4 linked regions of the Homo sapiens genome follow. Changing the gene in region 1 together with any one later gene gives a genetic interaction. Each region holds a gene or a part of one and is shown in the gene's direction. Other genes may lie near its edges. The genes, in order: TIPIN, ARIH1, MCM4 and ATR.

What was found.
Region 2: changes in TIPIN (region 1) and ARIH1 together harm fitness more than expected from each alone (negative genetic interaction), as found in Homo sapiens cells (one large-scale study listed by BioGRID).
Region 3: changes in TIPIN (region 1) and MCM4 together harm fitness more than expected from each alone (negative genetic interaction), as found in Homo sapiens cells (one large-scale study listed by BioGRID).
Region 4: changes in TIPIN (region 1) and ATR are lethal when combined (synthetic lethality), as found in Homo sapiens cells (one large-scale study listed by BioGRID).

What each region holds. Positions count from the first base shown.
Region 1 is NC_000015.10:66,335,691-66,339,685, reverse strand, and holds the end of TIPIN (TIMELESS-interacting protein), read left to right. Parts: intron 1-2,504; coding exon 2,505-2,728; 3' UTR 2,729-3,495; downstream 3,496-3,995.
Region 2 is NC_000015.10:72,598,012-72,606,279, forward strand, and holds the end of ARIH1 (E3 ubiquitin-protein ligase ARIH1), read left to right. Parts: 3' UTR 1-4,976; downstream 4,977-8,268. UniProt on the Homo sapiens protein: E3 ubiquitin-protein ligase, which catalyzes ubiquitination of target proteins together with ubiquitin-conjugating enzyme E2 UBE2L3.
Region 3 is NC_000008.11:47,967,480-47,974,440, forward strand, and holds part of MCM4 (DNA replication licensing factor MCM4), read left to right. Parts: coding exon 1-6; intron 7-2,318; coding exon 2,319-2,578; intron 2,579-3,031; coding exon 3,032-3,397; intron 3,398-3,861; coding exon 3,862-3,989; intron 3,990-5,377; coding exon 5,378-5,585; intron 5,586-6,961. UniProt on the Homo sapiens protein: Acts as a component of the MCM2-7 complex (MCM complex) which is the replicative helicase essential for 'once per cell cycle' DNA replication initiation and elongation in eukaryotic cells.
Region 4 is NC_000003.12:142,557,718-142,565,233, reverse strand, and holds part of ATR (serine/threonine-protein kinase ATR), read left to right. Parts: intron 1-2,124; coding exon 2,125-3,002; intron 3,003-3,812; coding exon 3,813-3,991; intron 3,992-4,779; coding exon 4,780-4,971; intron 4,972-5,792; coding exon 5,793-5,983; intron 5,984-6,457; coding exon 6,458-6,610; intron 6,611-7,516. UniProt on the Homo sapiens protein: Serine/threonine protein kinase which activates checkpoint signaling upon genotoxic stresses such as ionizing radiation (IR), ultraviolet light (UV), or DNA replication stalling, thereby acting as a DNA damage sensor.

The sequences.
Region 1 (3,995 bases):
TCTTGACTCACTGCAGCCTTGAACTTCTAGTCTCAAGCAATCCTCCAGCATTGGGCTTCCAAAGTGCTGGGATTGCAGGTATGAGCCAGTGTACCTGGCCTAAATTTGCTGTTTTTAACACACATTGTGGGTTTGGAAACTATATAACCAAATTTGTTAAAACTATATTTAGAAAGAATTGCAAGTTGGTTTTGAATGAAGTAAGCAGGATTGCGTATATCTTTCTTAATTTCCCATTCAGTTTTTCCTTTCAAAATGGAAAAATAAGAATTATAGGCCCAGCACAGTGTCTCTTGCCTGTAATCCCAGCACTTTGGGAGGCTGAGGTGGGCAGATCACTTGAGCCTGGGAGTTCAAGACCAGCCTGGGCAACATAGTGAGTCCCCGTCTCTACAAAAAAAAAAAGAATTATAATAACTAGATACCATGTTGTAAACGAAGTTTCACCCAATATATTAACATTTTTAAGTGAAAATTATTTTGGCTACTTTTTTTTTCAGTTAAGATGAATTTACTTTTTCTTTTTGCTTTTTTTTTTTTTTTTTTTTTTTTTTGAGATGGAGTCTTGCTCTGTAGCTCAGGCTGGAGTGCAGTGGCGTGATCTTGGCTCACTGCAACCTCTGCCTCCCGGGTTCAAGCAGTTCCCCTGCTTCAGCCTCCTCAAGTAGCTAGGACTACAAGTGCGTGCCCCCATGCCTGGCTAATTTTTGTATTTTTAGTAGAGAAGGGATTTCACTGTGTTGGCCAGGGTGGTCTTGAACTCCTGACCTAGTGATCTGCCTGCCTCAGCCTCCCAAAGTCCTGGGATTACAGGTGTGAGCCACCATGCCCAGCTGAATTTACTTTTTCCTTTTTTTTTTTTTTTTTTTTTTGAGACGGAGTCTTGCTCTGTCACCCAGGCTGGAGTGCAATGGCGTGATCTCGGCTCACTGCAAGCCCCGCCTCCCGTGTCCATGCCATTCTCGTGCCTCAGCCTCCCGAGTAGCTGGGACTACAGGTGCCTGCCACCACGCCTGGCTAATTTTTTGTATTTTTAGTAGAGACAGGGTTTCACCGTATCAGCCAGGATGGTCTCGATCCCCTAACCTCGTGATCCACCCACCTCGGTCTCCTAAAGTGCTGGGATTACAGGTGTGAGCCACCGCACCTGGCCAATTTACTTTTTCTTTATAAATGGATGTTTTATTAGTACCATGTGAAACATTACATGAAGATAGCATTATTCTTGATGGCAGTGGCTTCTTTGCTGTCAATATCAAGTATACCTGGCAGTTGGTATTTAAAGCTCACCTCTGTTTATCATATACAACTTAAAATTTGTCCAAATGGAAATAAGTACTTTAAAGTTTCTTATGGATCACTCTGACATAAAACCTAAACGCACTTGGTTTTTATTAGACCTCTTTCTAGTAGTTTTCAGTTTTGTTTTTTTAGATGGGGCCTCACTGTATTGCCCAGGCTGGAGTGCAGTTGCTGATCTCGGCCCACTGCAACCTCCGCCTCCTAGGTTCAAGCGATTCTCCTGTCCCAGCCTCCCGAGTAGCTGGGATTACAGGCGTGCTCCACCATGTCCGGCTAATTTTTGTATTTTTTGTAGAGGCAGGGTTTCACCATATTGGCCAGACTGGTTTCAAACTCCTGACCTTGAGTGATCTGCCTGCCTCAGCCTCCCAAAGTGCTGAGATTACAGGCATGATCCACTGTGCCTGGCCAATAGTAGTTTGATTTTGAATAAGAACAGTTACATTTGACTATGATCCAAGAGTGTGAGTTGAATAACATTCAAAACCATTTTGCTTTTTTTTTGTTTTTTTTTGGTTATAGGATCTCACTTTGTCACCCAGGCTGGAGTGCAGTGGCACGATCATGGTTCGCCACCATAGCCAGCTAATTATTTTTTTTTTTATTTTATTTTTTTTGATGTTTTGTTGACATGGGGTCTCACTATGTGGCCCAGGCTGGTCCTGAACTCCTGAGCTCCAATGATCCTCCCACATTGTTGGGATCGGGCCTGGCCTCTCTTGCATTTAAAATGGATCTTAATTGTATAAAAATGGGCTTATTGGCTAGGCGTGGTAGCTCACGCCTGTAATCCCAGGACTTTGGGAGCCTGAGGCGGGTGGATCACCTGAGGTCAGGAGTTCGAGACCAGCCTGGCCAACATAGTGAAACCCTGTCTCTTCTAAAAATACCAAAATTAGCCGGGTGTAGTGGCGGGTACCTGTAATCCCAGCTACTCGGGAGGCTGAGGCAGGAGAATCACTTGAACCCGGTGGAGGTTGCAGTGAGCCCAGATCGTGCGATTGCACTCCAGCCAAAGTGATGGAGCGAGACTCCATCTCAAAAAAAAAAAAAAAGATATATTTAGAAGAAAGTGATCATAATTAACATTAAGTGATCTTAGACTTCATTTTACTAAACTGAGCTTTTGAAGAGGTTTGTACTCATGCGGTAAGATTGGATCAGGTACTTATAATGAATAATAATGGTATGATTTCTTTCAGATATGTTAATGAATACACCCAGGGCACACACGGTTGAAGAGGTTAATACTGATGAGGATCAAAAGGAGGAGTCAAATGGATTAAACGAAGACATTCTGGACAATCCATGTAATGATGCTATTGCCAATACTTTAAATGAAGAGGAAACACTGCTGGACCAGTCTTTTAAAAATGTGCAACAGCAACTTGATGCTACATCCAGAAATATTACTGAAGCTAGATAAGTTTCCATTAAGAGAAAATGTATCTGTTAAGTCATCGTCCTGCAAGCTTGGCGTTACTATGTATTTTTTCTTCTTGGAGTGAAAATCCTTAGATAGTAAAACTGTTATAGATTATTGTTTAAAATCTGATAATCTGGTATTTATTTATAATTATGCTTGTCACTTTAGTTAAATCTATTTGTTCTCTTTAGTGTTTGTTTTTATATAGGTATTTCTTCATAAAATGATTAGGAGGTAATAAGCAGTTTCTGCTGCTGGTCTGTCATTGAATGCCTTGTTTTCACTAAGTTGGGAGGTTTTGTTTCTGTTTTTTACTGCTCCTTGCAAAGCAGGGCTAATCCATGGACAGTGTGCCCAGAGTAGTCTAGTTGAAGTTTTTTGTTTTGTTTTGTTTTGTTTTTTTTGACACAGAGTCTCACTCTGTTGGCCAGGCTGGAGTGCAGTGGCACAGTCTTGGCTCACTGCAACCTCTGCCTCCTGGGCTCAAGCAATTCTCCTGCCTTAGCCTCCCGAGTAGCTGGGACTACAGGCGTGTGCCACCACGCTTGGCTAATTTTTGTACTTTTAGTAGAGATGAGGTTTCACCATGTTGGCCAGGCTGGTCTCAAACTCCTAACCTCAGGTAATCCGCCCCCCTCGGCCTCCCAAAGTGCTGGGATTACAGGTGTGAGCCACCGCGCCCAGCCTGGGTGAAGTTTTGAGATGTACATATATACTGAATATTAATGTCAATTTTTTAAAAGAAGTAAAAATTATCTTAAAAACTATCTACAGGCTTTATGGGAGGTTTTCATTGCTATATAGTTCTGCAGTTTACACTTTTGGTAAATACAAGATTTTTACATGTTTTCTAAGGAGTTACTTTAATAGTTAAAAGGTCACATGAAAGGCCGATACATTGCCTGGCCCTCATAGGTGCTAGGGTAGTTCAAAGAATGCTTTTTGGGAACTTACTGACTAGTTGGAGTGAAACTTGCAAAGTATCGTGGGGAACATAGCATCTCGGGAGGATTTACAGGAAAGACTTTGCTTTTGGTGGAGGAGATTCCAAGTATTGGGAAGCACATGTACAATAATGATACAGAAATAAGATTAAGGGGATAAGGCAGATTTTAGGAATGCTGATTTTGAGGTTAGATGTGTTAGGGCCAAATCGTGAGAACACCTGATTGGAGTTCTTCCTGCCAGGTAGAGGGGGTAGTTACAAATAAGAAAGGTTAGTGTTAGGAAAGGCTCTCCCACCCCACCCCCTCACCCCTACCCACAG
Region 2 (8,268 bases), 6.3 Mb from region 1:
CCTGTAGTGATCTCAGCTCACTACAACCTCTGCCTTCCTGGCTCAGTTGATCCTCCCACCTCAGCCTCCTGAGCAGCTGGGACTACAGGCGTGTACCACCACACCCGGCTAATTTTTGTATTTTTTGTTGAGATAGGGTTTTACCATGTTGCCCAGGCTGATCTCAAACTTCTGAGCTCAAGCGATCTGCCTGCCTCAGCACCCCAAAGTCCTGGGGTTACAGGCATAAACCACTGCACCCAACCTAGATTTCTTTGTGTCCTTAGCTTTCTGATGAATTAAACATATGTTTTATTTTCTAGCTCATCTGGCCTTTTGTTGTTGTTTGCTAGAGTGGGAGGTATATTCCTTGTGACTTTGTTCATATCACTAGTGAATTTCAGAAGTAGGAGTTTATTTTTTTAATAAAAAATTTTTTTAGGTCAGGCACAGTGTCTCATGCCTGTAATCCCAGCACTTTGGGAGGCCGAGGCAGGTGGATCACCTGAGATCAGGAGTTTGAGACCAGCCTGGCCAACATAGTGAAACCCCAACTCTACTAAAAATACTAAAATTAGCCAGGTGTGGTGGTGGGCGCCTGTAATCCCAGCTACTTGAGAGACTGAGTCAGGAGATTTGCTTGAACCTGGGAGGCGGAGGTTGCAGTGAGCCGAGATTGTGCCACTGCACTCCAGCCTGGGTGACAGAGCAAGACTCCCTCTCAAAAAAAAAAAAAAAAATTTTTTTTTAAACACGTCTCACTGCCACCCAGGCTTGAGTGCCATGACATGATCATAGCTCACTGCTGGCTTGACCTTCTGGGCTCAAGTGATCCTCTTGCCTCAGCCTCTTGAGTAGCTGGGACCACAGTCATGTGCCACCATGCCTGGCTTTTTTTTTTTTGTAGAGTTTGGGTCTCGCTATGTTGCCTGTGATCCTCCCACCTTGGTTTTCCAAAGTGCTGGGATTAAAGGCATGAGCCACCATGCCTGGTTAGGAATGGGAGTTTAAACAATGGTTTTATTTACATATTTCATTAGCTAGTATTTTTTTCTTTTTTGAGACAGAGTCTGGCTCTGTTGCCCAGGCTGGAGTGCAGTGGCACGATCTAGGCTCATTGCAACCTCTGCCTCGTGATTCTCGTGACTCAGCCTCCTGAGTAGCTGGGATTACAGGCGCCCGCCACCACACCCAGCTAATTTTTGTATTTTTAGTAGAGACAGGGTTTCACCATGTTGGCCAGGTTGGTCTCCAACTCCTGACCTCAGTTGATCCACCCGCCTCAGCCTCCCAAAGTGCTGGGATTACAGGTGTGAGCCATCGCTCCTGGCCTCATTAACTGTTTTCAAAAGTAAAAGTACATGGATAATACAAAGTTAAATTTTGTAGAATCATAAAGAAAAGCAACACCTTCCCATCTTAACTCCCCTAGTGCCTCTACTCCCTCCACAGAGACAAATATCTTACCAGTTGGTTGTGTTTTCTTTTCCAAACTGTATTTCTAAAATGTGTCAATATCTCTTCCTTTTATTTTTTATTTTTTGTAGAGACAGGGGTCTCACTGTGCTGCCTAGGCTGGTCTCAAACTCCTGGCCTCCTACCTCGACTTCTCATAGTTCTGGCGTGAGCTACTGCACCTGGCCTCCCCCTTATTATTTTTTTAAACATGAATGGAAGCATACTATATTTTCTACACTTTATTTGTTTTATGTAACTATTTTAACAACCTGAGGACTTTTACAGGCTGCATAATATGTCTTAATATGGATGTATCTTAGTTTATTTAAACAGTTACTGGTGATGGACATTTCCATGTTTCCAGTATTTTTTCTCACAAACAATGCAGTATTATGCCTTTGTCCACATTCACCATTGATTGCTATTGAGTATATCTGTAGCATCAAGAATAGGCATACTGAAAATCCTCCATGAAGTCCAGTGAAGCTTCATATTATTTTGAAGTGATATTTCCCAGTGTTGGCTGGACTCTCAAGCGTTTGTGGTATAGGTTTTGGGAGGACTGGACACTTCCAAAGAGAAATAAGATGTTACAGACTTGTCCAGCAGGTGGCATCAGAACAAAGCTGGCTATGGACCTTGTCAGTACAAATGATAAAACATTAAAAATGTAAAAACTCAACTGTAGCTCCTTGTTTATACATATATTGGGGGTGTTGAAAAGTTACCGATGCCTGATTCCTCTTCTATGTCCTCAGCCCCCACCATAAAAATAGATAAATGCCATTTTTTTTGTATGCCCAGCACAGCTATATGATTTGAATAATCTTGATAAGCAGGGTCACATTTGAGGAGATTTGCTAAGGGAAATGAAGATCCATCTGTGACACAAGAAACATGTTCTATGTGATTTCTGGGATTTTCCTGTGAACATACTTCTTGTTTGTTTGTTTTACAGTGGATCTCACTCTGTCACCCAGGCTGGAGTTCAGTGGTGCAATCATAGCTCACTGCAACCTTGAGCTCCTGGGCTCAGGAGAGCCTCTCTCCTCAGTCTCCCAAGTAGCTAGGACTACAGACACATGCCATCATGCCAGGCTCATTTTAAAATTTTTTGTAGAGACGGGTCTCACTATGTTGCTCAGGCTGGTATTGAACTCCTGGGCTCAAGCAATCCTCCTGCCTCAGCATCTCAAAGTGTTGGGATTACAGGTGTGAACCATAGTATCCAACCTATTATGTTTTTTTAAAAAGAGATTGTTCTAATTATGTATATAATTAAAGTACATTAGGTTTAGTGATTGCAATTTGAGAAACCAATGTCCTTTCTTATTGAAAAAGGCCCTGGTACAGAAAGTGTTCTATCTTCCTCACAAGATCTGAGGTCAAAGGAGAGATTTTGAAACATTATAGCAATGGCTTCTAGTTATTGAATAAAGAATGTCATTTGCTCCTCACAGGACCCCTTTCAGGGAGATTTCACATATTGGGAAACAGCCTCATGAGCTTTCTACAAACATCTTTGTCCTTAAGTCTTCCCATTTCAGTAATTGGCTGTACCACTCATCCAGCAGCTTTCAAAGTAAGAAACCTGGCAATCTTCCTTTAACATCCATTTCCCTTTCCCTCATTCCCCCATATCCAATCATGTGTATTGGAGGTTTTTCCACCTCTAAACTTGAGAACCCATTTACTTTTTCTCCATCTCCTTTGCCATCACACTAGTCCAAGTGAAGTGTTTCATCATCTCATTTGCAGCATCCTTTAGTTTACCCTAGATTATCAATTTTTGTCCCCCTCCCAATTCAGTCTCTACTCATGAGCTAACATGAGTTTATTAAGTGTTCATTCTGACCATGCCATTCCTTGCTCAAAATTCTCTAGTGCCTTCCCAATGCCCTTAAAATAAAATTCCTCATATGGCCTTTGTGGATCTGCACTCCTACCTCTTCTCCTATTGCAACCAACCCTGTTACCTTTTTCTCTTTTCACACTGGTCTTCATTCTGTGCTGCAAACTGGCTGAGATTCTTCCATCCTCAGGGCCTTTGCACAAGTTCTTCCTTTGCCTTAGAATTCTTTCCTGGCCTGCACATGTCTTCATCCCCTTTCCCTAAGCTAATGCCTTACCCTTTAGGTCTCATTTTAAACATCTCTTACCCAGGAAAAATTTCCCTGTCCAAACAAGTCTAGATTGGCTCCCCATTGTTTGTTCTAACTGTTCTATATTTCTCCTTCTTAGCATTTATCACAATTCTTGGTATGTTGTGCTTTTCACTTTCTTAGTCGCTATTATTGGAGTAGGTAATACATCCATATAGTACAAAATTCAAAATGTATTAAAGGTATAGAGTAAAAAGTCTTCTCTTCCCTGTCCCCCCGCTACCCAGTTCTCCTCTTTAGAACCACTTTTAGCATTTTGAATATCCTTCCAGAAATATTTTCTAAGTATACAAGCAATTATGTATATAATATTCCTCTTTATTTTTGCCTTTTTATTAATACAGATACTATATGCATTTTCTGCACTTTATCTGTTAATAATATATCTTGGCAATTATTCAATATTAATATGTAAATAGTTGCCTCTTTCTTTTTCATGCGCCATATAATATGGACTTATAATTTATTTAACCTCTATCTAGGTTGGTTTTAGGCATTGGTTATTACAAATAATGCTGCATTGAATACCTTTGTATGTAAAGTCATTTCCCACATCTATGCCTATAGAATAAATTACTAGAATTGAAATAATTCAGTTAAAGATTATGTGCATTTTTAATTTTGGTAGTTATTGCCAAACTGCTCTCAATGGAAGTTTTATGAATTCCCACTAGTGAATGCATTTGTCCTCACAATTATGTCAGTGAAATTTTTGTTCTTTGCCAATGCAAGAAATGGAAAGTATCTCTTGGAAACTAATTTGCATGTTTTTTTTCCTTGCACAGTTATATTTTCATATGTTAAAGAGCCATTTGTATTTCTTGGTGAATTGTTCATAAACTTTGCTTACTTATTATCTAATGTCTGACTAATTTGCTACACTCTAAATTCCCAATTCATACTTAAGTCTCGCCCTTGCAATTTAGATGTACAATCTGCCTCTTCAGTGGTTTCCACACCAAAAAATCCACAGGCTCCTGAATTTTATATGGGCCTAAGAGTCTTACTGAAAATTGGAAGTCTTAAGGTGTAGTCTATTTTATGCAGTGTGAGGCCTTTCATGCTCTGAAATGTACCACTCTTGACTGACTTTTTCTTCTTCACCCTGTCCGGCACTGTGCCCTTATTAGCCAGAGAAATGTTCCCCCTTTCTCCCAGGAAACGTTCTGACCTTACCCTGGTCCCTCAAGGACTCTCCTTCTCCCCCAAATTAACTTTCAAGGAGTTTCTCCAACCCAAAATGGCACCCTTCCTGAAAAGATTTCTAGTGGATACTGTTTTCTGTACCTCACTACGGATGTATTTTGCTGCTTGGCTCCCCGTCTCCATTTTGCTATGGCAAACATTTTTTTCCAGAAATATATCAGATAAAATGAACATGTGGTCCCTTTTGTTGATTTTTGTTGGGATCCATGGTATTGATTTCTTCTAGTTTAGATAATTCCACCGTGGCAAGCTTTTATTCCTAGCATAGCGCTCATGAGGAGAATGTTAGTCACTTGGTGTTATTAATGCTAAAATAGTAAACAAGAACACAAAATTTGCTAGATTAGAAGTGGATTTTTTTTCCAGGCTGGGCACAGTGGCTCATGCCTGTAATCCCAGCAGTTTGGGAGGCTGAGGCAGGCAGATTGCTTTGAGCTCACGAATTCGAGACCAGCCTGGGCAACATGGAGAAACCCCGTCTGTACTGGGGCTAATTTTACCAAAAAAACTAGCCAGGTGTGGTGGCACACACCTGTGGTCCCAGCTACTGGGGAGGCTGAGGTGGAAGGATGGCTTGAGCCTGGGAGGCAGAGGTTGCAGTGAGCCTAGTTAGTGCCATTGCACTCCAGCCTGGGTGACATGTCTCAAAAAAAAAAAAAAAAAAAAAAGGTAAGGAATGAATTAACATGAATGAAAAAGGCATGATCTGCAGTCAGTCACCCATGGTCAAAGATAGCAGATACCAATTCATTCTCAGAGCGAAACGAAATCAGCCCAATGCTTTTGGCAAACTGTGGTTGCCTCCCTGTCATCATCATCTGGGCTCACTGTGGCTCGCCCTTCTGGCCTTGCTTCTGACCTTGCCATCTCTGGGGAGGCTTCTTTGCAAGCCCAAGCTTGGGCTCCCCTTCTCAGAACCATGTGCATACTTGTCCTGGAACTGTTTTTTTTTTTTTTTTTTTTTTTTTTTTTTTTTTTTTGCCTGTGCCTCTTGGAGGGCAGGGGCCATCTGGCACAAACCTGCATCCCCGCAGTTGCTAAATTAATGAACAAACAAATACCAAGTCTTTCACAATGTAACTTGAGAGTGGAGGTAGTGGTAGTGGCAACTCCATCTGGGGGATGAGAGAAGGTGGAGGCTGAGTTTTGGGGATGGCTTGCAACAGAAGAGGAGAGATTATTAGCAGCTAAAGGAGTGGCCAGGGTGAACACCAAGCATTTTCCTGACTGGGGAGCTGTGGGTTTGTTTATGGCTGGGTAAGGGGTGAAACCAGTGAGCAGGAGAGATAGCTAGTACTGGACTGGAGTGAAAGGCATCTGTAGAGGCAGGAGACAGGATGGGGAGGTAGAGGAGTTGGCCTAGGACAGGACAGCACTTATTTGAAGACTGGTGGGCAGGAGGAAAGGAAGGAGAGGGATTGAGAAATGACCTGGAGGTCCTCAGTCAGCTGGGAGAAGACCTGGAAGAGGGGGATTGGCTGCTGTTGGGATGGAGAGGAGGGCCAGGGGAGGCAGTGACTCACACGGAGGGAGGCTCGGGGATGGGGACTTTGGCAGTGGGGGGTGGGAAAGACATACTCGCAGGGGATCGGAAGGCCCCGTGGCAACTTTGTGTAAGTCCTGGTTCAGTCAAGGAGAGGAATCCGAGGGAAATGCCTGATTGGACCCATGGCCCACTCTGAGAGAAAGGGGTACTGTGGGTGTGCAGGAGGAAGAGCAGCTGGGAAGTAGGAGTGCCTAGGACTGGATCCAACTGGAAAGGGGGCAGATATGCTCCCAGGATCAGGGTAGGGACCCTCTAGGAAGGGGGCGTTCTGAGAGGGAGGTTGTGGGGAGCACTGTATGGGGGTCCTTGGAGGTGATTTCTGGGAAGGGGAAGTCTGGGGCAGGGCTGTGAGGAGTCAGGAAAGAAACTGTGGAGTCCGTTCCTCACCCACCTCCTGAGCCCTGGGGTCTGAGGCCCCCAGGAAAGAGGGTTCAGTGGCACAGGAGGGTCCAGGGCAGGAGAGAGAAAGCAGCCTCTCAGGTCTTCTTGGAAAGGAACTCTGACCACCAGTGTGAATAGTCTTGCAGAAAGCTAAGCGGACACCAAGTGAAAGCTGGCCCCTCCCCTCTCCCAGAGTGGGAGGGGCCAGCGGTTGCATGGGCAGCTTTCCTTGTGATGCCACAGTCCTCTGGACACACTGCTGCCTTGCCACACCTCCTTTCCCTTTCATCTTTCTCATCAACCAATGGGCTTGGCAGCATTGAGGCCATGCCCCTATTCTGTGTTCTAGTGTGGCCCTGGTTATCCCTCCTCTGACTCAGTTGCACAGCTACCTGGCAGGTGACCGGAGGTGTTTAGCAGTCTTGCCTGGATTGCGCTGATGTGGCCCCAACCCCGCCTCCCTCCCCACACCACCATGTAGGAAGAAACTCAACAGAGCAAATTGGCTGCAGCCAAGAAAAAGGTAAAAACCACCAGGTCATAGCCCCTGACCCACCTGCAGACTTCCTCTGACGGCAGGACTACTGCCAGAGTCTGTGCCACTCCTGAGGCACACCGGGTTAGGCCCCCCTGGTGCCTCTGCACTCCCCCTACCAAAATATTGTTAGCCAGCGCTGTTCCCTCAGCAGCCCAGCCCCTGCCCTCAACAGTCACCCCAGGGTGACTACTGGGGCAGGTGACTCCTGGGGCTCCCTGCTCCAGACTAGGCCCTGACCTCCTGCCCCCTCCCAAGCCTGACCTCCCTGGGCTCTTTGGCCTGGCATCTCCAAGGACTAAGACAACCACTTCTGGTGGTTGCCACTCACCTGGGGATGTGAGTTTTGGCTGGCCAGGCTCCTGGGGACAGGGGGCCCAAGGGGCAGTAGAGGGTAATTGTTAAGATTGCTGGGTACTGGTTAAAAATTCTGGGTTTGAATCCTGCCTCTCTGTCTGCTGGGGATATGATTTAGGGCAAGTTACTTGAGCTCTTTGGGCCTCTCTTTTCATATCTGTATAATAGAGGTGGTATTGTTTGACTTCCATTTGTGAAGTTTAAATGAAATTTGTTGTTGTTTTTATGTGAATCCCTAGTACATAGCCTGCTGTAAACACACAGGACACCCAGGAAATGGTCATTGCTGTTTGATTTTCCTCGCCCCAGTCTCAAGGGGAAGCCAGGCCAATGAGAAAAGCCACTTGCCATCAGCCTATCCCTTTAGAAGTCACTGAAAGGGCCCCACGTGTGGTGTAAGAGAAGATCTTACTTGCCACCAGCTTGCTGGGTGACCACAGAAAAATCACTATTTCCCCTGAGCCTCAGTTTTCTCCTCTATAACATGATACTGGATAAGATCAGTGTCTTTCAAACTTGTTTTTCACCTGGAGTCACCTTAGCTCAACTGAACCCTTACTCAGAAGTCTGGTTTTTTTTTTAACAGAAGTGGAGGTCTGGAGCTCTACCACATTCATCGCCCATGTCCTGGGCCTGAGGAGAGG
Region 3 (6,961 bases), on another chromosome or scaffold:
TTACAGGTAAGAGTGTAGGTTTGCACCAGCACTTGAGCATGTCTGGCTTGCTTTCAATGCTGTGCTTTAGTGAGTCATTGGACTTGGTCACAGGTCCAGTTCTACCTCCAGTTGTCACTGCTTGTCTTTGAGACTGTGGGGTATATCCCTGCTTTATCTGCCACCTTTTTAACTGAGTACCATGGCCCAGCAGTATGAAATTGTTCAGTTCTTCCCAAACTTGAATGTTGGAGCTCATGGTTCGTGTGGTCACTCGCCTCTTGATACCTCAGTATCCTGGAGCTGTGTGTGTCTCAAGTCAGTACTGTTGGCATCATGAGAGAGCAGCCTCAGACAGGCTTGTATGGGTAAAGTTTTGAGTTATGCCATCAGCTCAGAGAAGTATTACTCACCAATGCTGGAGTTTTAAGTAATTTTTACTTAATTTCCCAAATGTATAGCCAAGGGTTAACATTTGTTTGTTACAGAGAAAAATGAGTCAGTGACTTGTTTCCATGTGTAGAAGCTGAGGTTCAGGGATGCATAGACAGCAGTAGCTCAGATGCCACGGTAAATCAGAACCCAGGACCCAGGTCTCCTTCTCTTGCTGCCACAAGAGTGCTCTTTGCACAGCACCATATGAGTGTGGCAGTCCTCCTTTTGATGCTGTAGAGTCACAATGGATTTTGGTTGGGGGCAAGGGAGTGTTGATGGCAGCACGGTTCTTCATTGATGGGCAAGGTGGCGACGGTCGCGGAGTGCCTGAATCTGCTCCTGAGCGGAGGGCCTGGGGCACACCACGCATCGGCTCTTGTCTTCAGTGAGGCAGTGCTCACCCTGTTTCTTCCCCAGTGTGAAGTCCCGCAGTTATCACTGGCAATCTTCCGTCGTAAAAGTACTTGAAGTCATGGAGAATTTGAAAGAATGCGTAGTTTTTAGTGAGTGACGTGCGCATTTCCAGTCCTGCTACCCTGAAACCTTTGATAAAGTATTTAGTCCAATATTTTTGTTTCCTCACCTACAAAGTGGAGTTAATGTGATGATACATGTGTGAGAGTGTTTGGGGCCAAGGGGCTGTGGAAAGTGCTGTGTAGATGTGAAATAAGTATCAATGCTGCTCTGTGAGATAAATCATTCCGGGCCACTTTAAACATAATCTTCCATCCCTAGCCTATATTGGAGTGAAGAATAGTGTGTATTCTAAGAATGTGTGTAAACTGGTTTGTTGTGTTAAACAAGAATTACACTGACCCACTGAATAAACAAGGACAGTGCTCTGTGCCATTGCGTTGAGATAGCTGTAACGGGGAAAGGCCAGGCTTTCTCCAAAAGCTGCAGGAATCAGCCTGGAGTTAAAGCCTTCTGGTTTGAAATCCAGAAAAGACGAACATCAGATCAGACCTCTGTATGTGAGGAGCCTGGCTTCCAGAAGAATGCATGATTTGCATGCTTTTGTCGGGGGTGGTGGGTAGGTTGGGGGGACCTAGTCTAGTTTTAATGACTGGAGGATTTTAGCATTTTGTTGCAGTCAAGTAAGTGCTAGGCAGATTCTGTACACTCAACTTAGGGAAGTAAAAATACTGCTTATTAAAAACAACCACGAACCCAGCATTGAGCTAGAAGCACAGCAGCTCCATTTCACCCTCAGGGTGACTGTGCCCGTGGGCATGCTCACGTAGCTACAGTTGCCCTGGAGCACTGCTGACTAGTGGGCCCAGGTGAACACGTCCTCGGGTCTATCATTTGCAGAAACCTGGGTTCTTTCTCTTTTGTTTTGTTTTGTTTTGTTTTGTTTCATTTTGTTTTGTTTTGTTTTTGAGACGGAGTTTTGCTCTCGTCACCCAGGCTGGAGTCCAATGGCACCATCTTGGCTCACCGCAACCTCCGCCTCCCAGGTTCAAGCCATTCTCCTGCCTCAGCCTCCCGAGTAGCTGGGATTACAGGCATGTGCCACCACGCCCGGCTAATTTTTGTATTTTTAGTAGAGACAGGGTTCTCCTTGTTGATTAGGGTGGTCTCGAACTCCCAACCTCAGGTGATCCGCCTGCCTCAGCCTCCCAAAGTGCTAGGATTACAGACATGAGCCACCTTGGTTCTTTCGAGCTTGTCCGTTTCCTGCTGCTATTTCCCTGCTTGCTCATAGCAAGCGGGAGCTTTGCAATGTGGGCCTGAGTCCTGGGCTTGGGAGGGTCATTTAAGAGACGGTGGAGCTCACCCTTTCCAGGGCCAGCCCGACGTGGTGCCTCGCTCTGAAGTGCACCTGTTGCCTACGCTGGTTGCTGAGCCACTCGGAGGAAGATATGGGAAGGTAAAAGTGCATCTCCTGGTTGTGCCCTCAGGCATCTATCGAGCTGTGCCTATTCGAGTCAATCCAAGAGTGAGTAATGTGAAGTCTGTCTACAAAACCCACATTGATGTCATTCATTATCGGAAAACGGATGCAAAACGTCTGCATGGCCTTGATGAAGAAGCAGAACAGAAACTTTTTTCAGAGAAACGTGTGGAATTGCTTAAGGAACTTTCCAGGAAACCAGACATTTATGAGAGGCTTGCTTCAGCCTTGGCTCCAAGCATTTATGAACATGAAGATATAAAGAAGGTAACAGTGGATTTTAAACTAGGGGTTGGGATTTACAATTCTTTGGGATCAAATAGTATAAACATCCACTCCGCCACTCGAGCCATCCGCCATAAAGGACAGAGTTGTGGCCTGTTAGAGCAAGTGCTGGCAACCTGACTTGCCATTGGTTGAGAAGAATCATAGCATTGTCTATCCTCATCTCTGGTCTAAACTTAGGTTTCTAAACAGAAGAGGCCACACAGTGTCAGAATAGGGACTTGCATGGCCACCATTCTGGTGTAATGATAGGTGCTGATGAACTGGTCAGTGATAACTTAAAGCATATCAAGCACTTTCACGAGCCTTTTTATACCTTCCTGTGATTTCTTAATTGTAGTTCTTTATAAGAGAGAAAAGTACCTCTAAAGTTTAAACTACATCTCAGTTAACTGTGCAGAAAATGAATGTTTAGACATGTCTCTGATTATTTAGGGAATTTTGCTTCAGCTCTTTGGCGGGACAAGGAAGGATTTTAGTCACACTGGAAGGGGCAAATTTCGGGCTGAGATCAACATCTTGCTGTGTGGCGACCCTGGTACCAGCAAGTCCCAGCTGCTGCAGTACGTGTACAACCTCGTCCCCAGGGGCCAGTACACGTCTGGGAAGGGCTCCAGTGCAGTTGGCCTCACTGCGTACGTAATGAAAGACCCTGAGACAAGGCAGCTGGTCCTGCAGACAGGTGCTCTTGTCCTGAGTGACAACGGCATCTGCTGTATCGATGAGTTCGACAAGATGAATGAAAGTACAAGATCGGTATTGCATGAAGTCATGGAACAGCAGACTCTGTCCATTGCAAAGGTGAGTCGCCTTCTCCACCGTGAACATGGACGTGTTTAAAATATGTGGACCCTTGAAAGACAGGGTCTGTGGAACTGTGCTGTGCTACCTTGGTTCTAACTTGGGGAGATTGATAAGTGCTTTCCACATCATATTTCAGCTAAATCTCAACATGTCTTCTACAGGGTGTCACGTTTTGTCTTTATTGCTGTACTAGCCTTGAATTTGTCCTAAAGCTCTTGCAAGGTGCCTGCTTCCTGAGAAAGATGTGGTTATAGCACACATTCATCTAAACTCAGTCCTTGGCATGAATCTGAGGACAGGGCTTATCCAGGTGAACTGCTGAAGTCAGTAAAGGCAACATGGCTCAGGCAATAGAAACTCAGTGGAGGGAATATGGGTTTAGTAGGTGGCCGGGCGAAGACGGTGCTTGTTAATTGCCAGCGTCAGGGAGAGGCTTCTAACTGCACTCTTTGCTCTGATAGGCTGGGATCATCTGTCAGCTCAATGCGCGCACCTCTGTCCTGGCAGCAGCAAATCCCATTGAGTCTCAGTGGAATCCTAAAAAAACAACCATTGAAAACATCCAGCTGCCTCATACTTTATTATCAAGGTATTAAAACAGATTTTTATTTTGTTCATTTGTAGAATATTCAGGGTGAGATTGAAAAGGAGCTACTAAGATTTCAGCAACTGCTAATGGAAACTCTTCACTCTTATCAAGATGTTTCAAATTTGGTTGGTCAAGAGTTTTCACGACAAGGATGATGTGTGTTCTCATTTGTTTTTTAAGCAGTTGGGATGTTTACCTCCCACGCCGTTTACACATGGCTGTCACTCACTACTCTTAGTCCTAAAGCCACTGCTGAGAGTCAACAGAGAACAATTCCGTACAGTAGATGAGGCTCTGAAAAGTTAGATTTATTAAAGTGCAATCACATAATCTTCACTCTTGGCCCCACTACAAATATTGGACATTTTTCATAAATGGATTTTAGGTTTTAATTACTTGCTTTTTTTTCTTTTTTTTTGACAGAAGTTTTTTTTCCCAAAAAAACAGTTGAATGTGTTTTCATTCAAATCTTTCCATTGTCAGCCAGGTACAGTGACTCACACCTGTAATTCCAGCACTTTGGGAGGCTGAGGTGGGTGGATCGCCTGAGCTCAGGAGTTTGAGGCCACCCTGGGCAACTTGATGAAACCCCATCTCTACTAAAATACAAAAAATTAGCCCGGCGTGGCGGCGCATGCCTGTAATCCCAGCTACTCGGGAGGCTGAGGAGGCACAAGAATTGCTTGAGCCTGGGGGAGTGGAGATTGCAGTGAGCTGAGATCATACCACTTCACTCTAGCTTGGGCTACAGAGTGAGACTCTGTCTCAAAAAAAAAAAAAAAAAAAAAACTTTCCATCGTCAAAATTATAGTAACGTTTCCCTAAGGGAAGACTTCCTTTGACTCAGCTGATTGGTCCCCAGCCGTTCCCTGGGCCGACCTAAGGACTAGGGACAGCACAGGGTGAGTGGGGTGAGTGGATGGACACGAAGGCCCTTTCCACACCAGGCAAAGATGCTTCTCCCTGATGGCGCTCACAGGGTGCACATTGACTGCACATCTGTGGTGCTCAAGCAGTCTTTAGTACGTCGTTTGTAGGTGTATTGGTGTCTCAACTAGGAAAACAGTTTTTTTGTTGTTGTTTTGGGTTTTTTTGTTTGTTTTTTTGAGACAGAGTCTCCCTCTGTCGGCCAGGCTGGAGTGCAGTGACGCGAACTTGGCTCACCGCAACCTTCGCCTTCCAGGTTCAAGCGATTCTCCTGCTTCAGCCTCCCAAGTAGCTGGGATTACAGGCAGGCACCACCACTCCTGGCTAATTGTTGCATTTTTAGTAGAGACAAGGTTTCACCGTGTTGGCCAGGCTGGTCTCAAACTACCAACCTCAGGTGATCCACCTGCCTCGGCCTCACAAGGTGCTGGAAAAACAGTATTTTTACTTTGTTTTCTTAGGTTTGATTTGATCTTCCTCTTGCTGGACCCTCAGGACGAAGCCTATGACAGGCGTCTGGCTCACCACCTGGTCGCACTGTACTACCAGAGCGAGGAGCAGGCAGAGGAGGAGCTCCTGGACATGGCGGTGCTAAAGGACTACATTGCCTACGCGCACAGCACCATCATGCCGCGGCTAAGTGAGGAAGCCAGCCAGGCTCTCATCGAGGTAACCCTGCTGAAAAAAGGCTTACTGTGCCTGTAGCCCACAGCATTAATGTAACTGACCAATCATCTCCTTTAAAATATTAATTATTTTGTTACGAATAACATACTGTTCTCTTCCTTGTTTTGAGACAGAGCCTGGCTCTCTTGCCCAGGCTGGAGTGCAGTGGCTTGATCTCGGCTTACTGCAGCCTGTGGCCTGTGCTTCTGGGTTCAAGCGATTCTCCTGCTTCAGCCTCCCTATTAGCTGGGATTACAGGTGCCCACAACCACTCCGGCTAATTTTTGTATTTTTAGTAGAGACAGAGTTTCACCGTGTTGGCCAGGCTGGTCTTGAAATCCTGACCTCAAGTGATGCGCCAGCCTCTGCCTCCCAAAGTGTTAGGATTGCAGGCGCAAGCCACCATGCTGGGCCTAAGAATAATAAACTTTTCTTTTTTTTTTTTTTGTGAGACGGAGTCTCGCTGTGTCCCCCAGGCTGGACTGCAGTGGCGCGATCTCGGCTCACTGCAAGCTCCACCTCCCGGATTCACGCCATTCTCCTGCCTCAGCCTCCTGAGTAGCTGGGATTACAGGCACCCACCACCACGCCTGGCTAATTTTTTGTATTTTTAGTAGAGACGGGGTTTCACTGTGTTAGGATGGTCTCGATCTCCTGACCTCGTGATCCGCCTGCCTCGGCCTCCCAAAGTGCTGGGATTACAGGCGTGAGCCACCGCGCCTAGCAATATACTATTTTTTATAACTGTTTATTACTTCCTCCCATATTGCAAAATTGATCTTTCCAAATGTTGCAAAAGGGGGAAATAGTTCATTTATGTAGGTAGTACACACACTTTATATGTTTAAGTACTTACAAGCATAGTGAATTTAAGATCAAAGACCTGGTTTCAAATAGAGGCAACACTACACAGTAATTTGGAAACTGAAAAAGTCATCCAGTTTCTGTAAGCTTCCTTTTGCTTGTAAAAAACAGAATGAGCTGTCTTTTAGGTTCACTTTTCAGCATCCTGGTACATGAGCTGAAGTGCATGATGGCACATTTAGGTTATTCAAGCATTGTGATATTAAGAAGGTTCCTGGTGCTTTGATGAGCTTTGCATCCTAACTGAGCTCCTAAAAATTCTAAGATGAAAGTTACAGACATTATGTAATTTTTTTGTGTGTCATAGTCTTGGGGGTTGTTAATGAAGAAATAAGACTGTGTCATCTGTATGTGAAATTGATACAACTTACCTTTGCAGCATTCTCCCAGCAATCCTTATGAGCCCCATTGTGCCCCATGTGAGCACTTTTCCCAGACAGGCCTGATTCTCCCTATGAGTGCTCACAGCCTTCTCCTCTCCCCACATGCCACATTCCTTCCCTCTGCCACGCCAT
Region 4 (7,516 bases), on another chromosome or scaffold:
CTCTTAGTACTAAGTGTTCTGCATTTCATCTATCATAGAGGCTATTAAACTGTGCTCTAATCATTGGTTTGTCTATATTCTTTCCTACAGTAGTTTTTAAACTACAGGTCATAACCCACTAGTGGGTTATGAAATTAGGCAATTATCAGCATTTAAAACAAGATGAAATAAACTAGAAAATATCATAGGCTGGGCACGATGTCTCACGCCTGTAATCCCAGCACTTTGGGAGTTCGAGACCAGCCTAGGCAACATGGCAAAATCCTGTCTCTACCAAAACCAAACCAAACCAAACCAAAACAAAACAGAAAAACATTAGCTGAACATGGTGGCACATGCCTGTGGTACAAGCTACTTGGAAGGCTGAGGCACACTAATTGCTTTAGCCTGGGAGGCAGAGATTGCAGTGAGCTAAGACCATGCCGTTGCACTCCAGCCTGGGTAACAGAGTGAGAACCTGTCTCAAGAAAAAAAAAAAGAAAATATTATAGTACATTGTATGTAATAAGAGTAAGTACTATTTAATGAACCTTTTGTTTTAAATATTTAAATAAAATGCATGTATATGTACTGGGTCATGATATAAAATGTTATTTCTTTGTTGCAGTCAAAAAGCTCAAGAAACTGTACTGTGAGATTCATGAGGACAGGACTATGACTGATTTATTCTTGTGTACCTGAGACAGAGTCACCACTCAAATTTTAGTTGAAAGAATGACAATAGCTACCCTTTATTGAACATTTATTTTACTTTGGAACTGTGCTGAGTATTTCATGTGCATTTTCTTATTTGGTCCTCACAGTAACCCATAACATAGATAGCATTATTCTCCTTATACATGAAATTACAGAGGTTCAGAGAAATGAAAAGTTTATACAACTAGTAAGTGGAAAGCTAGGACCTTGCCTGTCTGACTCCAAAGTTGTTACAGGCATACCTCAGAAATATTGTGGGTTCAGTTCCAGACCACTACAATAAAGTGAATATTGCAATAAAGTAAGTCACATGAATTTTTTGGTTTCCCAGTGCATATAAAAGTTATGTTTACGTTGTACCTTAAGTGTGGAATAGCATTATGTCTAAAAAACAATGTATGTACCCTAATTAAAAATACTTTATTACTAAAAAATGCTAACGATTATATCATCCTTCAACAAGTTGTAATATTTGTGCTGGTGGAGTGTCTTGCCTTGATGTTGAGGGCCTTTCTCTGGATTAGGCTTTGGCTTAAGGGAATGTTGTGGCTGGTTTGATCTTCTTTTTTTCCTACTGGAAATTTCCTCATCTTTTAACGATTTGATCTTCTATTCAGAGTACAAAAACTTTCTCCATACCAGCAATAAGGCTGTTTCACTTTCTCATCAATGGTGCGTTCAGTGGAGTAGTACTTTTAATTTCCTCCAAAAACTTTTTCTTTGTTTTAACAAGTTGGTTGTTTGGTGAAAGAGGCCTAGCTTTCAACTTGTCTTGGCTTTCAACATGCCTTCCTCAGTAGGCTTAATCATTTCTAGCTTTTGATTTGAAGTGAGAGATGTGTGACTCTTCCTTTCATTTGAACACATAGAGGCCATTGTAAGGGTTATTAATTAACCTAATTTCAATACTGTGTCTCAGGGAATAGGGAGACACAAGGAGAGGGAGAGAGATGGGGAACTGCTGGTCGGTGGGTCAGAACACATACATTTATCCATTAAGTTTGCCACCTTATATCGGTGTGGTTCATGACAGCTCCAAACAATTACAATAGTAACATCAAACGTCACTGATCACAGATCACCATAACAGATACGATAATAATGAAAATGTTTGAAATATTTTGAGAATTACCAAAATGTGATACAGAGACATGAAGTGACCACATGCTATTGGAAAAATGGCACTGATACACTTGCTTGATGCAGAGTTACCACAACCTTCAATTTGTGACAAATGCAGTATCTGCAACGTGCAATAAAACTGGGTATGCCTGTGTTCTAAACTATTATGTTTCCATTGTGAAGAGAATGTTTTACACTCTTGTTAGTGAAGTTTATTCTTTAAAAGTCAATCGTCAAGGATTTAGCAAATGAATTAGCACTTCGGATATACTTGTTTATTTAATATCTTTTTTGTTTATTTCAAAGAATTCAGTAATTGGATCATAACGAGACTTCTGCGGATTGCAGCAACTCCCTCCTGTCATTTGTTACACAAGAAAATCTGTGAAGTCATCTGTTCATTATTATTTCTTTTTAAAAGCAAGAGTCCTGCTATTTTTGGGGTACTCACAAAAGAATTATTACAACTTTTTGAAGACTTGGTTTACCTCCATAGAAGAAATGTGATGGGTCATGCTGTGGAATGGCCAGTGGTCATGAGCCGATTTTTAAGTCAATTAGATGAACACATGGGATATTTACAATCAGCTCCTTTGCAGTTGATGAGTATGCAAAATTTAGAATTTATTGAAGTCACTTTATTAATGGTTCTTACTCGTATTATTGCAATTGTGTTTTTTAGAAGGCAAGAACTCTTACTTTGGCAGATAGGTTGTGTTCTGCTAGAGTATGGTAGTCCAAAAATTAAATCCCTAGCAATTAGCTTTTTAACAGAACTTTTTCAGCTTGGAGGACTACCAGCACAACCAGCTAGCACTTTTTTCAGCTCATTTTTGGAATTATTAAAACACCTTGTAGAAATGGATACTGACCAATTGAAACTCTATGAAGAGCCATTATCAAAGCTGATAAAGACACTATTTCCCTTTGAAGCAGAAGCTTATAGAAATATTGAACCTGTCTATTTAAATATGCTGCTGGAAAAACTCTGTGTCATGTTTGAAGACGGTGTGCTCATGCGGCTTAAGTCTGATTTGCTAAAAGCAGCTTTGTGCCATTTACTGCAGTATTTCCTTAAATTTGTGCCAGCTGGGTATGAATCTGCTTTACAAGTCAGGAAGGTCTATGTGAGAAATATTTGTAAAGCTCTTTTGGATGTGCTTGGAATTGAGGTAGATGCAGAGGTAAGTAATTTTTCAGGTTACTAGTTAAGTATGTATTTTGTTCATCATTTAATTGTATACATATGTGCAAAATGTAATAATAAGAAAATAGAATATCTTTAATAGTAATTTATATTTGGAACATAATGATTTTCATAGTGTAGTCTGGCTCACTATTATGGACTTTTACTTTGATTTCAGAAGGATTTGTTCATTAAGTTGGTAATGAACTGCCAATGGAGTAGAATGTTTCTAAGTAGAATCTGTGAAGTGTAAATGTATTTGTTGCATTATTAATTAAAAGGGGGCAGTTACCAACTTAATTGCAGAAGCTTTGGTCAATCAGATTATGTGTCTGACAAGTTATAATCAATCACTTTTAGAAAACCTATGAATGATTAATCATGCCAAATTATGCGCTTTTTTCTATTTGGACTGTGGGAGTCAGGTAATACAATAAAATCATCAGAGATGCAGTAACTTGATTAAATATTTTAGTTTATTAATCTTGCTGGATTAAAGTTACATGAAGAAAGTTGGTAATTCCCTTACAGAATTTTTTATAAGGGAATTAAAATTTATAGCATTTTGGTAAGAGGAAAAACAGGATGTAGAGAGAAGGATTTGTTTAAACCTTCTAAGACTATAGAACCATAGTCTATATATAGACTTAAATAATATAGATCAATTTAGATGTTTATTTTGCTTTATGAGACTCTAAAAGTAGTTTCACTAGAAAACACCTAACATCTAATACATTCTTGCTGCCTATGAATAATATAAATATATTTTCTAAGGAATATTTCTGGAAATTATTTTTTATTTTCTCAGTACTTGTTGGGCCCACTTTATGCAGCTTTGAAAATGGAAAGTATGGAAATCATTGAGGAGATTCAATGCCAAACTCAACAGGAAAACCTCAGCAGTAATAGTGATGGAATATCACCCAAAAGGCGTCGTCTCAGCTCGTCTCTAAACCCTTCTAAAAGAGCACCAAAACAGACTGAGGAGTATGATGACCTTCATTCAGTTTGTATTTAGCCATTAAATAAAACTTTGTTCACTTTTAAAAATCAGCTTTAGTTAAGTGCTTTGATTTAAATACACAAAGAACATCTTTCTAAATGTAGCCAAGGGAGTGCTTAAAATATTTTTATAATTATTGTAGACGGTTAGTAGTATAAAACATTTCATGGTTAAATATAGTTACTTTGCATGTTTTTATATGCTTATCTAATTTAACTTTTTAATATGTGAAAAATCTTTGAGACTGTGCATCTATTAGCAATTTTTAAAACATTAACCAACTATTTTTTATAAAGTGGCTAAGTTGCCATATTTCAGTTACTTCTGAACATTGTTTTAATTGTTTTAAATCTTAGTATAAATTTCAGGCTGGGCGCGGTGGCTCACGCCTGTAATCCCAGCACTTTGGGAGGCCGAGGCGGGCAGATCACGAGGTCAGAAGATCGAGATCATCCTGGCTAACACGGTGAAACCCTGTCTCTACTAAAAATACAAAAAATTAGCCAAGCGTGGTGGTTGGCGCCTGTAGTCCCAGCTACTCGGGAGGCTGAGGCAGGAGAATGGCGTGAACCCGGGAGGCGGAGCTTGCAGTGAGCCGAGATGGCGCCACTGCACTCCAGCCTGGGAGACAGAGTGAGACTCTGTCTCACAAAAAAAAAAAATTTTTTTGAATAGTTGATATTACATAGTATGTTTTATTCTAAATATGTTTCATGTTTTAACCAAATTTATATTGCATATGAATATCTCTCTACTATATTCATAATTATAGAATTAAACATGTGGACATGAACCAAAAGAGCATATTATGGAGTGCACTGAAACAGAAAGCTGAATCCCTTCAGATTTCCCTTGAATACAGTGGCCTAAAGAATCCTGTTATTGAGATGTTAGAAGGAATTGCTGTTGTCTTACAACTGACTGCTCTGTGTACTGTTCATTGTTCTCATCAAAACATGAACTGGTAAAACAAACTTCTTGTTTCTTGGGGTTGGGTTTCCTGTAATGAACTTGGATTTACTGTTTACTCATTATTCACTTGACTCATGTAACCTTAGAACACAAACTTTTCACTGAAGTAGTTAATAAATTTATTTTCTATTGAGTCAAATGCTAGGTACGGTGCTAAGCACTGTATATATCTTAGTTAATATTTACAATAGTCCTGTAAGGTAAAGGCTATTATGCCTATTTTAAAAATTAGAAACTGACACTCAGAGAAACTGAGGCTCTTTTTTGTCTGAAGCCAAAACTGACTTTCCTGGGGACACATGATTAGAAAGTACCAGAACACATTTGTGTACAACTCAAAACCCAGTGTTTGGCTGTTGAAGACAGGGTCTCGCTTTGTCTCCCAGGCTGGTGCACAGTGGCATGATCATGGCTCACTACAGCCTTGATCTCTATCCGGGGCTCAAGTGAGCCTCCCATGTAGCTGGAACTATAGGCATGTGCCGCCACACCCTAATTTAGAAAAAATTTTTTTTGTAGAGATGGGTTTCCCTATATTGGCCCGGCTGGTCTCAAACTCCTGGGCTCAAGTGATCCTCCCACCTCAGGCTCCCAAAGTCATTTGGTTCCCAAATCCTAAGGGTGATTTAAGCTGACATAAATAGATTCAACTTAAAATAGTAATAACATATTACTTGATTTGCATGTTTACTTTAAATTGTTATAGATAAATTTCGTACTCACAATTTCTTTTGGCTTTACTACAATTTTATGTTTGACTATAACAAAATTCATCTTAATTCCAATGTTTTTAACAAAATGTACTTACTGCAGCCGTACTTTCAAGGACTGTCAACATAAATCCAAGAAGAAACCTTCTGTAGTGATAACTTGGATGTCATTGGATTTTTACACAAAAGTGCTTAAGAGCTGTAGAAGTTTGTTAGAATCTGTTCAGAAACTGGACCTGGAGGCAACCATTGATAAGGTGGTGAAAATTTATGATGCTTTGATTTATATGCAAGGTGAGTACAAATTAGCAACAGATCAGAATAACCTTTAAAGATAATCAGTATAGAAATATGCTTTCTTTTTTGCCTGAAGCCTAAGTGCGTGTTTGGAATACTCAGAAGTTTTTTCCTGATTTCAGTTCTATTAAATTTGTCAATAATAGAAGTTCTGAGTTGCCAATTTATGTGCATAATATTTTGATTCTTTAGTCAATAGAAATTATTTATAACTTCAAAGTTTTTTAATTTGGGAGTTTGAGGAATGCCGTGATTCTTCTTTAAAACAGGCATAGATAACATGTTTTTATAAAGTCACATTTAATTTCTTTGGGTTCACAGACCTCAGACCATCGTTTATAGATCTCTGTGTTAAGAATTTCTGCTTATCCAATGATCATTATGATAGTATTTCAAATGTCTTTATTTTTATTTAAAAGAGATATGATTAAGGAAAAGTTATAATTAATGACTTATTTTGTGCTTCTGTAGTAAACAGTTCATTTGAAGATCATATCCTGGAAGATTTATGTGGTATGCTCTCACTTCCATGGATTTATTCCCATTCTGATGATGGCTGTTTAAAGTTGACCACATTTGCCGCTAATCTTCTAACATTAAGCTGTAGGATTTCAGATAGCTATTGTAAGTGCTCACAAGAATGTGTGTGTGGTTTGTTTTATTTATCTATCTATCTATCTATCTATCTATTTATTTATTTATTTATTTATTTATTTATTTATTTTTGAGACGGAGTCTTACTCTGTCGCCCATGCTGGAGTGCAGTGGCGCAATCTCGGCTTGCTGCAACCTCCGTCTTCAGGTTCAAGCAATTTTCCTGCCTCAGCCTCCTGAGTAGCTAGGATTACAGGTGCGCACCACCATACCCAGCTAATTCTTATATTTTTAGTAGAGGCGGGGTTTCACCATGTTAGCCAGGCTGGTCTCGAACTCCTGACCTCAAGTGATCCACCTGCCCCAGCCTTCTAAAGTGCTAGGATTACAGGCGTGAGCCACCATGCCTGGCCTTGTGTGGTTTGTTTTAACTCATCTCTATATAGGACTTCTAAGACTTATTTATATTTTTTTCAATAATTAAAAGAGCAGGTACATTTTTAATAGTTCAGAAGGGGGTTAGATACATAAAAAGTAACACATAAAAGCCTGCCCCACATATCCCATTTCCTTTCTTTTTGTAAAACATTTGCAATGTGTCCTTACATATCATTATCTTCATTTAATAAAATTAGGAAGTATTTGAGAAATATTTTAAAAAGAAGAACAATATACCAAAAATTCTTATACCAACTTCTCAGTTTAAGAAATAGAAACATTAGGCCAGGCACGGTGGCTCACGCCTGTAATCCCAGCACTTTGGGAGGCCAAGGCATGCGGATCTCTTGAGGTCAGGAGCTTGAGACCAGCCTGGCCAACATGGCAAAACCTCATCTCTTCTAAAAATACAAAAATTAGCCAGGCATGGTGGCTCACGCCTGTAGTCCCAGCTACTAGGGAGGCTGAGATACAAGAATCTCTTGAACCCAGGAGGCA